Linked DNA regions of Homo sapiens: regions 1 and 3 are each linked to region 2. Evidence: fine-mapped expression QTL. A gene starts in region 2. Each other region holds a variant in brackets. All regions are shown on one strand. Distances are from middle to middle. Region 1 overlaps TNFRSF10A (TNF receptor superfamily member 10a). Region 2 holds the start of TNFRSF10A (TNF receptor superfamily member 10a). Region 3 overlaps CHMP7 (charged multivesicular body protein 7).

What was found. PIP is the estimated chance that this variant, and not a neighbour inherited with it, causes the effect. A credible set is the group of variants that fine-mapping cannot tell apart.
Region 1: its variant is the best candidate, but not a certain one, in a credible set for the expression of TNFRSF10A in whole blood (TOPMed, PIP 0.69).
Region 3: its variant is the best candidate, but not a certain one, in a credible set for the expression of TNFRSF10A in esophagus muscle (GTEx, PIP 0.75).

Annotation. Positions count from the first base shown.
Region 1 is chr8:23,197,815-23,201,940 of GRCh38, forward strand. It overlaps TNFRSF10A (TNF receptor superfamily member 10a), which reads right to left. Exons shown (of 10, transcript NM_003844.4): 4 at 3,994-4,105; 5 at 2,873-2,946; 6 at 2,691-2,786; 7 at 2,072-2,103; 8 at 1,452-1,634. Among named protein-coding and RNA genes, the nearest start is that of TNFRSF10A, 25 kb to the right of the region's middle. The variant C/A (reference allele first, on the strand shown) is at 2,437.
Region 2 is chr8:23,223,454-23,227,579 of GRCh38, forward strand. It overlaps TNFRSF10A (TNF receptor superfamily member 10a), which reads right to left and starts at 1,649. Exons shown (of 10, transcript NM_003844.4): 1 at 1,303-1,649. The coding sequence starts at 1,608. It overlaps TNFRSF10A-DT (TNFRSF10A divergent transcript), which reads left to right and starts at 1,768. Exons shown (of 3, transcript NR_033928.1): 1 at 1,768-2,670. RefSeq lists promoters at 1,141-2,177, 1,606-3,411, 1,606-2,259, a cis regulatory region at 1,141-1,220, silencers at 1,242-1,491, 1,659-1,850 and an enhancer at 1,902-2,041.
Region 3 is chr8:23,253,927-23,258,052 of GRCh38, forward strand. CHMP7 (charged multivesicular body protein 7) reads left to right here. Exons shown (of 11, transcript NM_152272.5): 4 at 1,321-1,506; 5 at 2,534-2,667; 6 at 4,107-4,126. Among named protein-coding and RNA genes, the nearest start is that of CHMP7, 12 kb to the left of the region's middle. The variant C/T (reference allele first, on the strand shown) is at 1,984.

The sequences.
Region 1 (4,126 bases), 26 kb before region 2:
ATTTGGACAAAGAATCACAAGAAATGATATCTCATAGTTACTTGAGGAAAAAGACCCAGGGCACTGCAGAGTGGAGGATGCTCTCTTTACTTACTGAGTACCTTTTGATAGTTTAAATTTTCTCATTTTAAATATATAAACTATTTGTTCATGTCAAAGCACCTTATCAAGCTGGAGATTATTGACCTTTTTAATGTTTGCCTTCTTTTTTTTTTAATTACATTTTTGGTTAGAATAAATGGGTACTAATGCAAGAAAGGAACTGAATGGAACAGTCTAGGTGGAAGGAGATCATTGTCTAGATGAGCATTTAACCTGTGATTAAGGAGGGACCCAAAGCAGAGGGAAATGGGAGAATCGGCAGCTCAAAGGGGTTGGAAAAACCAGACAGTGACTAGAACAATTCAGGGAGTGCCTCGCTTTGCACTGAAACACAAAACAAGTTCCATTTAGATTATAAAGTTATATGCAAAAATCACATCATTGAAAAAAATATCTCCATAAGAAGTTAGAGGAGTTCGTCTTGTGTTGGCAAAAGGTCTTTCTACAGTAGTGAGCAATGAAAAGGTAAAAGTATCTACAGATTTCACTGGTTAAAAATTAAAGCTTCTACACCTGAAAATATTAGAACAAAAAGGGGCAAGAAGAAATTAGGAATCTACTGTCTGAATGTGAGAAAAAGCATGAGTAGGAGAGCAGGCCTTCTCATAAAGACTCTGAGAGACAAGACACTGATCTTACGCAAAAACAGTGAAAACAAAGAAATGTTCGTTTAAAACAATGTTTTCCTAAATAGCAAAAAAAAGAAAAAAAAAGAAAAGAAAAAGCCCTTCAATGTCAAATCAAAATACATGAACTGGTACAAACCAACACTAGGGGGCTGTGTGCATGTGTGTACCTGTATGTGTGGGTACGTGCATGTGTGTGTGCATGTGTGTACATGCATGTGTGTGCATGTGCGTGTATGTGCGTGTACACAGTAAGCAGCACTGTTACAGGCTGACTTGGAAATTGTGCTTCTTCTTGGAATCCTCCATACAACCATATGCAGAAATTTGGGCAGAGATTTAGATCCAAATATGTTTAATGCAATAATAATTTCAGAGTAAATTTAAAATCCCTGCTGTTATGAGCAAGGGCTCCCTAACTTCTGTAGGAGCACACAGTGGAGACCGTGCAGCCTTATTCAGTCATCAACAAACCCTGTGACCCCCACTCTATTCCTCTGGAGCTCCAGTTTCTGAGGACATGGCAAGGACAGGACAGGGACTAAGAAGCAGACATTTGGAAGAGTGCCTGTCCCCTTGTGAGGGTGGCTGCTTTTTCCCACGCAGCCCCGTCCCCTGCAGTCCCATCTCCCTCAGGCTCCACTTCCCCTTTGACCAGGAGAGCCGAGGCATGGCCTTCACCCCCTGCCTACAAGGTCTTGGAGGGGCCTGTCCCCAACTCACCAGCAGACACTGTGCCTCCCCTGGGGACTGTACAGTGACACCTGTCAAATCTGCCGGCTCCTGGCTTTCCATTTGCTGCTCAGAGACGAAAGTGGACAGCGAGTCTGCGTTGCTCAGAATCTCGTTGTGAGCATTGTCCTCAGCCCCAGGCCCTCGTAGGAGACCCAAGCGCCAGAAACACACCTTAGGAAGGCAAAGAGCCAACTCAGAAGCCCACACCCAGGGCTCCCCACGGGGTCCGTAGGGCACGGCTGGACCTGCTGCCACCACCCCCTCCCAGTGAGGTCACTCCAGGAAGTCCATGCTCAGCACATCCAGGACCTGCTGCTGGGGCCAGGCCCTGGTGCTGGGCTTGGGGGCTCACCCCATCCCCAGGGTACAGGCTGTGGGGTAAGGGTCTCACCTGGGCTGTAGGAAGCACAGGGCTACAGAATGGCCCACCAGCCTGTATGATGCTCAAAAGGGCCTGTGTCCCCCATAGTCAATGCACAGCATCCAGGCCACTTCAGAGACTCAGGGCAGCCATGAGAGCACGGGGACCCACCCACCTGGACTACACTGTGGGCAAGAAGCAGTTCCTGAGCCCCTGATGCCCCCAGCTCCTGGAGAAATCAACTCACCCTGTCCATGCACTTGGGGTCCCCTCCACAACCTAGAAGAGAAGACGGTTCCCTTAGTGGCCAGGGAGGGGCCCATGCAGCACTCCTTCTTAGAGGGCAGTGTTGGGCAGGGGTGGGCTGGGGGCTGGGACACTGGACAAAGATCCCCGGGCCTGGGGATCCACATGAGGCCCTGCTAACTCGGGAGATCCTTCAGGAGCGGGGAGCATAAAGGGAAGTAGGCTAAAAACAAACAAGTGGAACATCACTGTTTTCTGCTCTGTGTTTTGCTCTGAACAAAGCTACATAAATCCCACAACCACTTCTCGTCTCGACTCTTGTCATCCAGTTGAGGAGCTGACTGCCCCCTGCCTGGATGGGCCTGA[C/A]CAGTGGAGGAACTGGCCCTGCCTTCCCAGACTTGGCTGGGAGATGAGGGGACCCCCAGCCTTGGGAGAGGGACGGATGACACCAGGGCCCTAGGGTTGCACAGGATGGGAGGATGGGGGGTGATCACAAGGAGGAAGATAGAGCCCGGCCAGAGACACTAGGACTTGGGGCAGGGGTGAGCGTTTCTGTCTGTGGGAACAGAAGAAGGCAGGGCAGAGAGTGCCCAGAGCCCTTGCCCTCAGCCAGCACCTACCTGAGCCGATGCAACAACAGACAATCAGCACAGCCACCAACAGCAACGGAACAACCAAAGTCACAACCAAAATCACCCATATATTATGTCCATTGCCTGAGAAAAGACAGGAAAAGACAGGAGTCTCGGGCTGCTGGTCCCTGTCTCCTCTGCAGCTGGGGCTTCCCCAGTGGGCTTTGTACCTGATTCTTTGTGGACACACTCGATGTCACTCCAGGGCGTACAATCCTTGACCTTGACCATCCCTCTGGGGCACCTGGGTACACACAGGGAGGGAGGGGGGGGACTCTTGATGGAAAGCTGGCCAGGTGGGATGAAAGAGGAGCCACTCTCCCTGCCCAATGTCCCTGAGAAGGCGTCAGGGGAAGGATAGTCTCCTCGTATCTGCAGGGGGTCCCCCTATGCTCCCTTGTTTAGGCTGGGGAAGGGTCTGAGCATGCACACTTTACCCCCTTGGCCTCCCTGCTCTGGGGTCAGAGCTGCAGTTCCAGGAGCCTTCTGTGCTGGGCACACACTAATCTTCCCTGGGCTGCAGGGGAGGCCTGCGTTAGGAGGAATCACACTCCAGGGGAAGATCACAAGCCCGTGTGGCCACAAGCTGAGCCCCTTCCTCCAGTTAACCCACAGTACAAGTGAGCCCTCGCCCCCACCTGTCTGCTGGTTCCTCTCAATCACAGCAAACACTGGAGGACCAGAGAAGAGCAATTACTCTTTGCTTCCAAAACCAAAATAGGAAAAAGACAGGACTTATTGAGAAATCAGGGGCCAGGGGTGAGGCTGGCTGGGTGGGCTCAGGTCCTCATGGGAACTTGAAGGAGCTCCACCCATGGCCTTATTATGATTTTTGCGGGCTGTGGGCATTTCTGTCTTCTTGAATTAAAAGCAAATATTAAAAATTACATTTTATGACTCAATTTGTTTAAATATAAATATAACCCCAGCTGGATTCTATACCATTATTTTCTTATGATTTCAAGATAAAATATTTCATGTACCTCTGTTGTGGGCCCTAAGTCATGGCCTCCTGTGCCTAGTGAACAAGTCAGCCTGGCCAAGGGGACTAGTGCTGGGGAGGGGTGAGAAGGGGCCACTGCAGGGGACAGGGGTGGGGACAGGCAGATGGACCAGGAGGGGCAGGTTGCAGGCTCAGGAGACGCCACAGGCTCAGGGACACCTATGGGGGTGGAGGCACCATGGGGTCAGGGCTGATAGATACGGGTACAAGGAGACTCGGGTCTTTTTAGGGTTCCTTGCTTCTGTGGGTTCTTTGAGGCTGCTGGGAGCCCCTTGGCTGTTGTCTCACCCTCTGCTGCACTTCCGGCACATCTCAGCAGAATTGTCATTCCGGAAAGTTCCTGGTTTGCACTGACATGCTGTGTTCCTGGTCGTGGTGCAGGGACTTCTCTCTTCTTCATCTGATGACAGAGTACAAGGTT
Region 2 (4,126 bases):
CCTACATCCACCTGGAATCGCACTAGCCTGTCAAAAAGAAAGCCATTTAATAAGCGTATTAAAAATAAGAGTCAAACGTGGGTTCCACCTAACATAAACTGACGTTTAAAACATAAATTCTGTAATTATTTGGAGATTTCAAAATGCTATTGGATTCCTGGATTTTGTTTAGTTTGTTAAACAAAAACACGTAAAATTTCCTGACACTTGTAAGACTGGTTTATCCTTCAGGTACTTAGCTTTCGTTTTGTTTTTCCTTAACATAGAAGGAATCTGGATGAGAACAATTGGTAGAGCCTTAATGAACTTGAAAGAGAACTGAAGGCATTGGCATTTTTCCAGACTGAGTGATTGCTTTCACAGGAAACGCTGCCTCCTGAAGGAAGGGCGTGCCCCGCTCCTGGCTGCCTGCCTCGTGGTGGTCAATTCGCTGCCCTGTACCTGTTGATGCGCAAGAAAGTGGCTGGAAGGAAACTGCTGCCGGTGTGCTCAGTGGACTCGAAACGGAAGACAACGAGCAGAGGAGAGAAAGTTACTTTTTCCTGCCGGGCTGCGTGTTTAACCAATTTGTCTAAGAAAAGAAGGATGGAGGGCCGGGCGCGGTGGCTCACGCCTGTAATCCCAGCACTTTGGGAGGCCGAGGCGGGCGGATTTGGCTAACACAGTGAAACCCCGTGACTACTAAAAATACAAAAAATTAGCCGGGCGTGGTGGCAGGAGCCTGTACTCCCAGCTACTCGGGAGGCTGAGGCAGGAGAATCGCTTGAACCAGGAAGGCGGAGCTTGCAGTGAGCCGAGATCGCGCCACTACACTCCAGCCTGGGCGACAGAGAGAGACTCCGTTTCAAAAAAAAAAAAAAAAAAAAAAAGAAGAGAAGAAAAGAAGGACGGGGGTGGGGAGGGAATCAGGGAGTGGGGAGAATGGCGCTCCCCTTCACGCAGCTGGTGTGGCTGGGAGTTGGCTTGGAAGTTTACACACTTGAGCTCTATCGATTCCGAAACTTCCCGATACATCGTGAGGTGTGGGCAGGAGGGAGACGCGCCAGGCAGCAGCCAACGGGGTGGAGTCCCCGGGCCCAGCCTCCTGCGGGAGGGGGCTCTGCTGCCTCCAGGCCCGGGTCGCTCCTGCCTGGCCCCGGGGACCCCGTTCTTCCTCCGACTCCGACGACGGGCTCCTCCTGCCCGGACATGCCCCGCCACAAGTGACCCGGGCCAGGCACCCCCGCCGCGTCCCCCTCTCTCTCTGCCCCCTCCCGGTGCCAGGCGCGCTTTTCCCCAGGCAGGACCGCGGTGGGGACTCACCTGCAGCAGGACCCCGACGACGACAAACTTGAAGGTCTTGTGGACCCGGAGCCGAGGGCTGGCTTCCCGCGCCGGCCTGGGTCCTGGGGCGCGCCCTGCCCGGGCCCGGGCACTGGGTCCGTGCTGTCCCATGGAGGTAGGGAGCGCTCCTCGGCCCCCGCCTCGTGGTTCAATCCTCCCCGCGGAAGAGCCCCACACTTTGCTGGGTGTGGCCGCGGCTGCCTCTGTCCCACTCGCTGCGCTCCCGGGATTCGGAGTCACTGCCAGGAACGCACCTAGATGTACTCTAGCTGGTGGTGGCGCCATCCTGCCAGGTCAATCCAAGAAGCAGCGTGCTTGGCTATGACAAGACAGAACTTCGCATTCGGAGTTCAGGGCACCCCTGACCCCGCCCCCTTTTCGGGGCACCTGCGGCTCCTGTTGGCTAACCCTGAACTTCCTTCCTCTGTGACCGCCCTTGCCGCTCTCAGCTTCTGTTCCTCAACCACGGCCGCCGCGTGGATGCCGCTGCATTCGGAGTCGTTTTGCCACTTGGTCCCAGCGCCAGGCTTCTCGGTCGGGAGTTGACCTCAGCCTTTCTGTGACCCAGTTCCTGGCACCCAGCAGGCGCTCGGTGGACGGATGGGTGGCGGAATGAAGGACACAGAGGCCACTGCGGGGTCTGGCCTCTAAGAGGCTTTTACGGCCTCCTCCGTCACTACCGGGCGAGTGATTCAGCCTGCCTTTTTTTTTTTTTTTTTTTTTTGAGATGGAGTCAAGCTCTGTCGCCCAGGCTGGAGTGCAGTGGCACGATCTCGGCTCACTGCAACCTCCGCCTCCCAGGTTCAAGCGATTTTCCTGCCTCAGCCTCCTGAGTAACTGGGATTACAGGTGCCCGCCACCACGTCCGGCTAATTTTTTTTCTATTTTTAGTAGAGACGGGGGTTTCACTGTTTTGGCCAGGCTGGTCTCGAGCTCCTGATCTCGTGATCCGCCCGCTTCGGCCTTACAAAGTGCTGGGATTACAAGCGTGAGCCACCGTGCCCGGCTCATCCTGCTTTTGGTTTCAGGTCTCCATGCCAGTGAAATGTCACCTCAACTCCACCGTCCCTGGTGTCAGGCAAGCCCGAGGGACCCAATTCTGCCTTTCTTCTGGATTTTCCTAACCTGTTAAGAGTCTTGAAAGTCCTTAAACCACGGGAGACTATCTGGCACATGACACGGGATGAGACTTGGTGGGGGTCCCACGGGGGACAGGTCCTTCCAGCGGTTCCTCTGCACCCAGCGCTGCACGGGCATGGGGCGTGGGTAATCAGCCTCCCGAAAGCCACGCGAGTCACGGTCCTGCCTGCGAAGAACTCCCAGGGCGACCTTGGGGCTGAGGAGTGGGTAAGAGAAAGGGGGCGCTGATTGATGTTCATTTTTCTCCATATTTTAATGGTGTTCCGGTACCATTTGTTGAAAAGACTCTTTTCGACCGGGCGCGGTGGCTCACGCCTGTAATCCCAGCACTTTGGGAGGCCGAGGCGGGCGGATCACCTGAGGTCAGGAGTTCGAGACCAGCCTGACCGACATGGAGAAACGCAGCCTCTACTAAAAATACAAAATTAGCGGGGCGTGGTGGCGGATGCCTGTAATCCCAGCCACTCGGGAGACTGAGGCAGGAGAATCGCTTGAACCCGGGAGGCAGAGGCTGCGGGGAGCCGAGATGGAGCCATTGCGCTCCAGCCTGGGCCACAAGAGGGAAACTCCGTCTCAAAAAAAAAAAAAAAAAAGACTTTTTTTCCTTATCCAATAGCCTTATCACTTTTGTTGAAATTAAATTGACCATATATATGTATGTGTCCATTTCCGGACTCTATTCTGTTCCGTTTATTTATTTGGCTATTCTCATGCTAATTACCACATTGTCCTAATTATGAGCTGTATAGTCAGTCTTGAAATCAGGCAGTTCAAGTCCTCCCCCTACTACCCACCTCCCAAATGGTTTGCATTTCCGTATATATTAAATATAGAATAATTTTTTTCAGTTAAAAAAGCCTACTGGAATTTTAATTGGGATTGCATTGAATGTAGAGATGAATGAGAATAATTGACATTTTAACAATTTTGAGTCTTTCAATCCATGAAATTTATTTATTTAGATATTTGTTACTTAAGCTTGACAATATTTTGCAAACTTTCCATGTACAAATCTTTCATATCTTTTGTAAACATATTTCTAACTATTTTTGTTACTATTGCTAATGGAATTGATTTAGCTTCCCTTATTTTCAAATTGTTTGTTGCAACTATACAGAAATACAGTTGATTTTTGTCCATCGGCCTTGTATGCTATGGTACTGCTAAATTGATATATTTCTAGTTGTTATTTTATAGATTATTTAGGATTTTCTATGTAAGCAATCCTATTGTCAGTAACCAAAAACTGTCTCAGTTCTTCCTTTCCAATCTTTATACCTTCTATTCATCTTTGTTGCTGAATTGCCCTGGATAGGATTTCCAGTACAATGTTAAATAGAAATAGTTAAAGCAGACATGCTTATCTTATTCCATATCTTAGAACACATCTAATTAATCACCATTAGATATGATGTTAGTTATAGTTTCCTCATAGATGCCTGCTGTAGTTTGAATGTCCTCTCCAAAACTCATGTTGAATTTTTTTTTTTTTTTTTTTTTTTTTGAGACAGAGTCTCACTCTTTCGCCCAGGCTGGAGTGCAGTGGCCTGATCTCGGCTCATTGCAACCTCCACCTCCTGGGTTCAAGCAATTCTTCTGCCCCAGCCTCCCCAGTAGCTGGGACTACAGGCACATGCTGCCGTGCCTGGCTAATTTTTGTATT
Region 3 (4,126 bases), 30 kb after region 2:
CTAGCCATGTCAGTTTCCTTCAGTGACCACCCACCATCTACAGAATAAAGGATCATCATAAGATATTACACTTTCTATAATATAGGATATTACACTTTCTATAATATAGGAGTGCTTCTCCTCTCTCTCCTTTCCCCTCTACATTTGTACACGTGCCGCATTGACCCACCCTTCTATGCTCATGTTCCTCTCTCTTCCCGAGATACCCGTTTCACCTCTTCACCTAGGAACTTGCTCACTCTTCAGAATTCTGCTCAACTTTTTTTTTTTTTCAAGAAATCCTGAATCCCCAGGCAGTCCTTCCCTATATTTTCATAGCATCCCATGGACACCTCAGTCTTTCTTGTTTCTGGTAGTAATTTCCATGTATGAGCGAAATGGTGACATTATTTCTTGGAACTTATATTTCTTACTCTTGTCACTAATCTTATCCCATCTGTTTATTATGTACTTTTCTTTGTTTTTTGTTTTGTTTTGTTCTGTTTGAGACAGAGTTTTGCTCTTGTCGCCCAGGCTGGAGTGCAGTGGCGCGATCTCGGCTCACTGCAACCTCCGCCTCCCAGGTTCAAGTGATTCTCCTGCCTCAACCTCCCAAGTAGCTGGGATTACAGGTGCCCGCCATCACATCCAGCTATTTTTTTTTTTTGTATTTTTAGTAAAGACAGGGTTTTGCCATGTTGGCCAGGCTGGTCTCGAACTCCTGACCTCAGGTGATCCTGACCTCAGGTGATCAGCCTCCCAGAGTGCTGGGATTACAGGCATGAGCTGCCACGCCTGGCCCTTTTCCCTTAAGGCTTTTTACAGAGTCAATAATGTTTGTGTTTGCAGTATAGCCAATTGGCAGGAAAATGGAGAGACTACAATTGGAAGGGAATTAGATGTCATTTCATCCACCCTCTTCAGAGAGTGATACTGAGGACTAGTGAGGCTGTGACTGGCCCAAGGTCACCCAGGCTAGGCTGGAAATCAGGCCTCAGCTCTCGTTCACAGCTGTTCTACCTCACCTCACCTCCTCAGTCTTCCCTTGGGAAACCACAGGCCAGTGAGAGGCAGGAGTGTAAAATCCCCGATGGGCGTGCAGCGCAGAGCTGGCTCCCAGCATCTCATGTGCCTCATTTCATGTGGAGTCACCAAACTTTCCTCCAAGGCTTAAAAACACAGATCCTTCCTCCTTTTTGAAAAGCCGCTACTTTGGGGAGGATGGGGTTGGGATTCCCGGGTGCTTGCCTTGTGTGATCATGGTTTTGAAACTCAGGGTCAGGGTCCCTGCATCCCATGGCAGTGGCCAGGGCCTGTCAGCCAATGTTGCCTTTCCCACAGGAAAAGGCTGAGGAGGTGTATCGTCTGTATCAGAACTCGCCCCTCTCCTCCCACCCCGTGGTGGCCCTGTCAGAGCTCAGCACCCTCTGTGCTAACTCCTGCCCAGATGAGAGGACCTTCTACTTGGTGTTGCTGCAGCTGCAGAAGGAGAAGAGGGTCACAGTCCTCGAGCAGAACGGGGAGAAGGTATGGAGGCTCATCTGTTCATTCACTGACTCAGCAGTGATTGATTAAGTACATAGAGTAGTGAGCCCTTATCTCAGATTTTGGTTTCCAGAGTTTCAGTAACCTGCCGTCAACCACGGTCCAAAAATAATAAGTGGAAAATTCCAAACATTAACAGTTCCATAGATTTCAGTTGTGCACTGTTCTGAGTAGTGTGATGGGACCTCGTAGTATCCCGCCTGTATGCGCATCCCTGCTTTGTCCAGCATCTCCCCGCCTGAGTCACTTAGGAGTCGTCTCAGTGATCAGATTGACTGTCACAGCATTGCAGTGGTTGTGTTCAAGCCACCCTTATTGTACTTTTTTTTTTTTTTTTTGAGATGGAGTCTTGCTCTGTCGCCCAGCAATGGCGCAATCTGAGCTCACTGCAGCCTCCGCCTCCCGGGTTCAAGCGATTCTTCTGCCTCAGCCTCCCAAGTAGCTGGAATTACAGGCATG[C/T]GCCACGGCCCCTGGCTAATTTTTGTATTTTTAGTAGAGAAGGGGTTTCACCAGTTAGCCAGGCTGTCTTGAACTCCTGACCTCAAGTGATCTGCCTGCCTCGGCCTCCCAAAGTGCTAGGATTACAGGTGTAAACCACCGTGCCTGGCCTATTATACTTAATAATGGCCCCAAAGCACAAGAGCAGTGGTGCTGGCAGTCCAGATTTACCAAAGAGAAGCGGTCAAGTGCTTCCTTTAAGTGAAAAGGTAAAAGTTCTGGACCAAATAAGGAAGACCAAATATCATTTGCTGAGTTTGCTAGGATCTACAGTAAGAATGAATCTTCTATAGGAAAAATTGTGAAGAAGGAAAAATGTTTACATAGCTATATGTATAGGGTTCAGTATTCTCTGAGGGTTCAGACCTCCACAGGGGATTCCATTCACTGGAACATATCCCCCATGGATAAGGGGGGCCTGCTGTTCTCACATGCCCACCACCAGCGCTCCTGGTTGGGAATTTCTCAGCCTTTGTGGTAGCAGCAGTAGTAATTTCTCCCTGTCCCTCAGATTGTGAAGTTTGCCCGAGGGCCACGTGCCAAGGTCTCTCCAGTCAATGACGTAGATGTTGGGGTGTACCAGCTGATGCAGAGTGAACAGCTTCTCTCACGCAAAGTGGAGTCCTTATCCCAGGAAGCAGAGAGGTAACTTTTAACCCTGAACTGAGCCTCCTCCCCACTGTTGCTGGCCCCCAGAGCCAGCAAAATGTTAGTATATGTGGGCTTTTAAAAAATAGGTGGGTTTTTTTTTTTTTTAGCTAATTACAAAAGTACTCACTGCTCAATGCAGAAATCATGGAAAGCACAGAATATCACAAAAGAGAAAAAAAAATGAGGCCTCTTTTTTTTTTTTTTTTTTTTTGAGACGGAGTCTCGCTCTGTCACCCGGGCTGGAGTGCAGTGGTGCGATCTCGGCTCACTGCAAGCTCCGCCTCCTGGGTTCACGCCATTTTCCTGCGCCAGCCTCCCGAGTAGCTGGTACTACAGCCACCCGCCACCACGCCTGGCGAATTTTTTATATTTCTAGTAGAGATGGGGTTTCACTGTGTTAGCCAGGATGGTCTGAATCTCCTGACCTCGTGATCCGCCCGCCTCTGCCTCCCAAAGTGCTGGGATTACAGGCGTGAGCCACCGTGCCCGGCCTTTTTTTTTTTTTTTTTCCTCAATTGAGACAGGGTCTTGCACTGTCCCCTAGGCTGGAGAGCAGTGACATGATCTTAGCTCACTGCAGTCTAACTCCTGAGCTCAAGCAATCTTCCCGCCTTAGCCTCCTGAGTAGCTGGGACCACAAGTGTGCACCACCATGCCTGGCTAATTTTTAATTTTTTGTTGAGATGGGGTCTCACCATGTTGCCCAGGCTGGTCTCACACTCCTCGGCGCAAACAAGACCCCCACCTCAGCCTCCCAAAGTGCTGGGATTACTGGGGTGAGCCACTGTGCCCAGCTGAAAACGTGAGTCTTAATGCTTCCCCCACAGACCATGACTGTGAATGTTATGTTTATGCTCTTCCTTGCCAGTGTCCATTCAACTAATATTTATTGAGCCAGGCATTGTCTTAGGGACTGGGGATACAGCCGTGGACAAGACAGGTCCCTGCCTTTGCAGAGGTCTTTCTGAGGGGCTCTTCCCCTGCCCTTCCCCCTGAATGACTGTACAAGGAATCCCTAATAAAGACACACCCTCTGGCAGGAGAACACAGACATTGAAGTCTGTCTTCCAGGTGGGAAAGTCTAGCCTTGTTGGGAGGCAGAGGATATGTCCGAGGTCATTGTTGGTGTTAACAGTTCCTTCCCTGTCTCCCCAAAACAGGAAGATGTGTATAATGTGCCCTGTTTGCATGTTCTGTCCCTGTGGGTTGAAAAAGCTTATCCTTAGTCAGCCTGCTTGAGCCTGCCACAACAGACTGTCAACAGACTTGCCACAAGAGTTTTTGCCGTCAGCATCAGTTTTCTTGCCACTGGGTATTGGGTTTAGTCTTCAGATTTAAAACCACCTTAACTGAGTGCTGCTCTCAGGGACCCTTTGGGACCCTGCCACTCCCATCCTGTGGCACAGTAATCTTATCTGTCCCTTTGTTTCCAGGTGTAAAGAAGAAGCCCGCC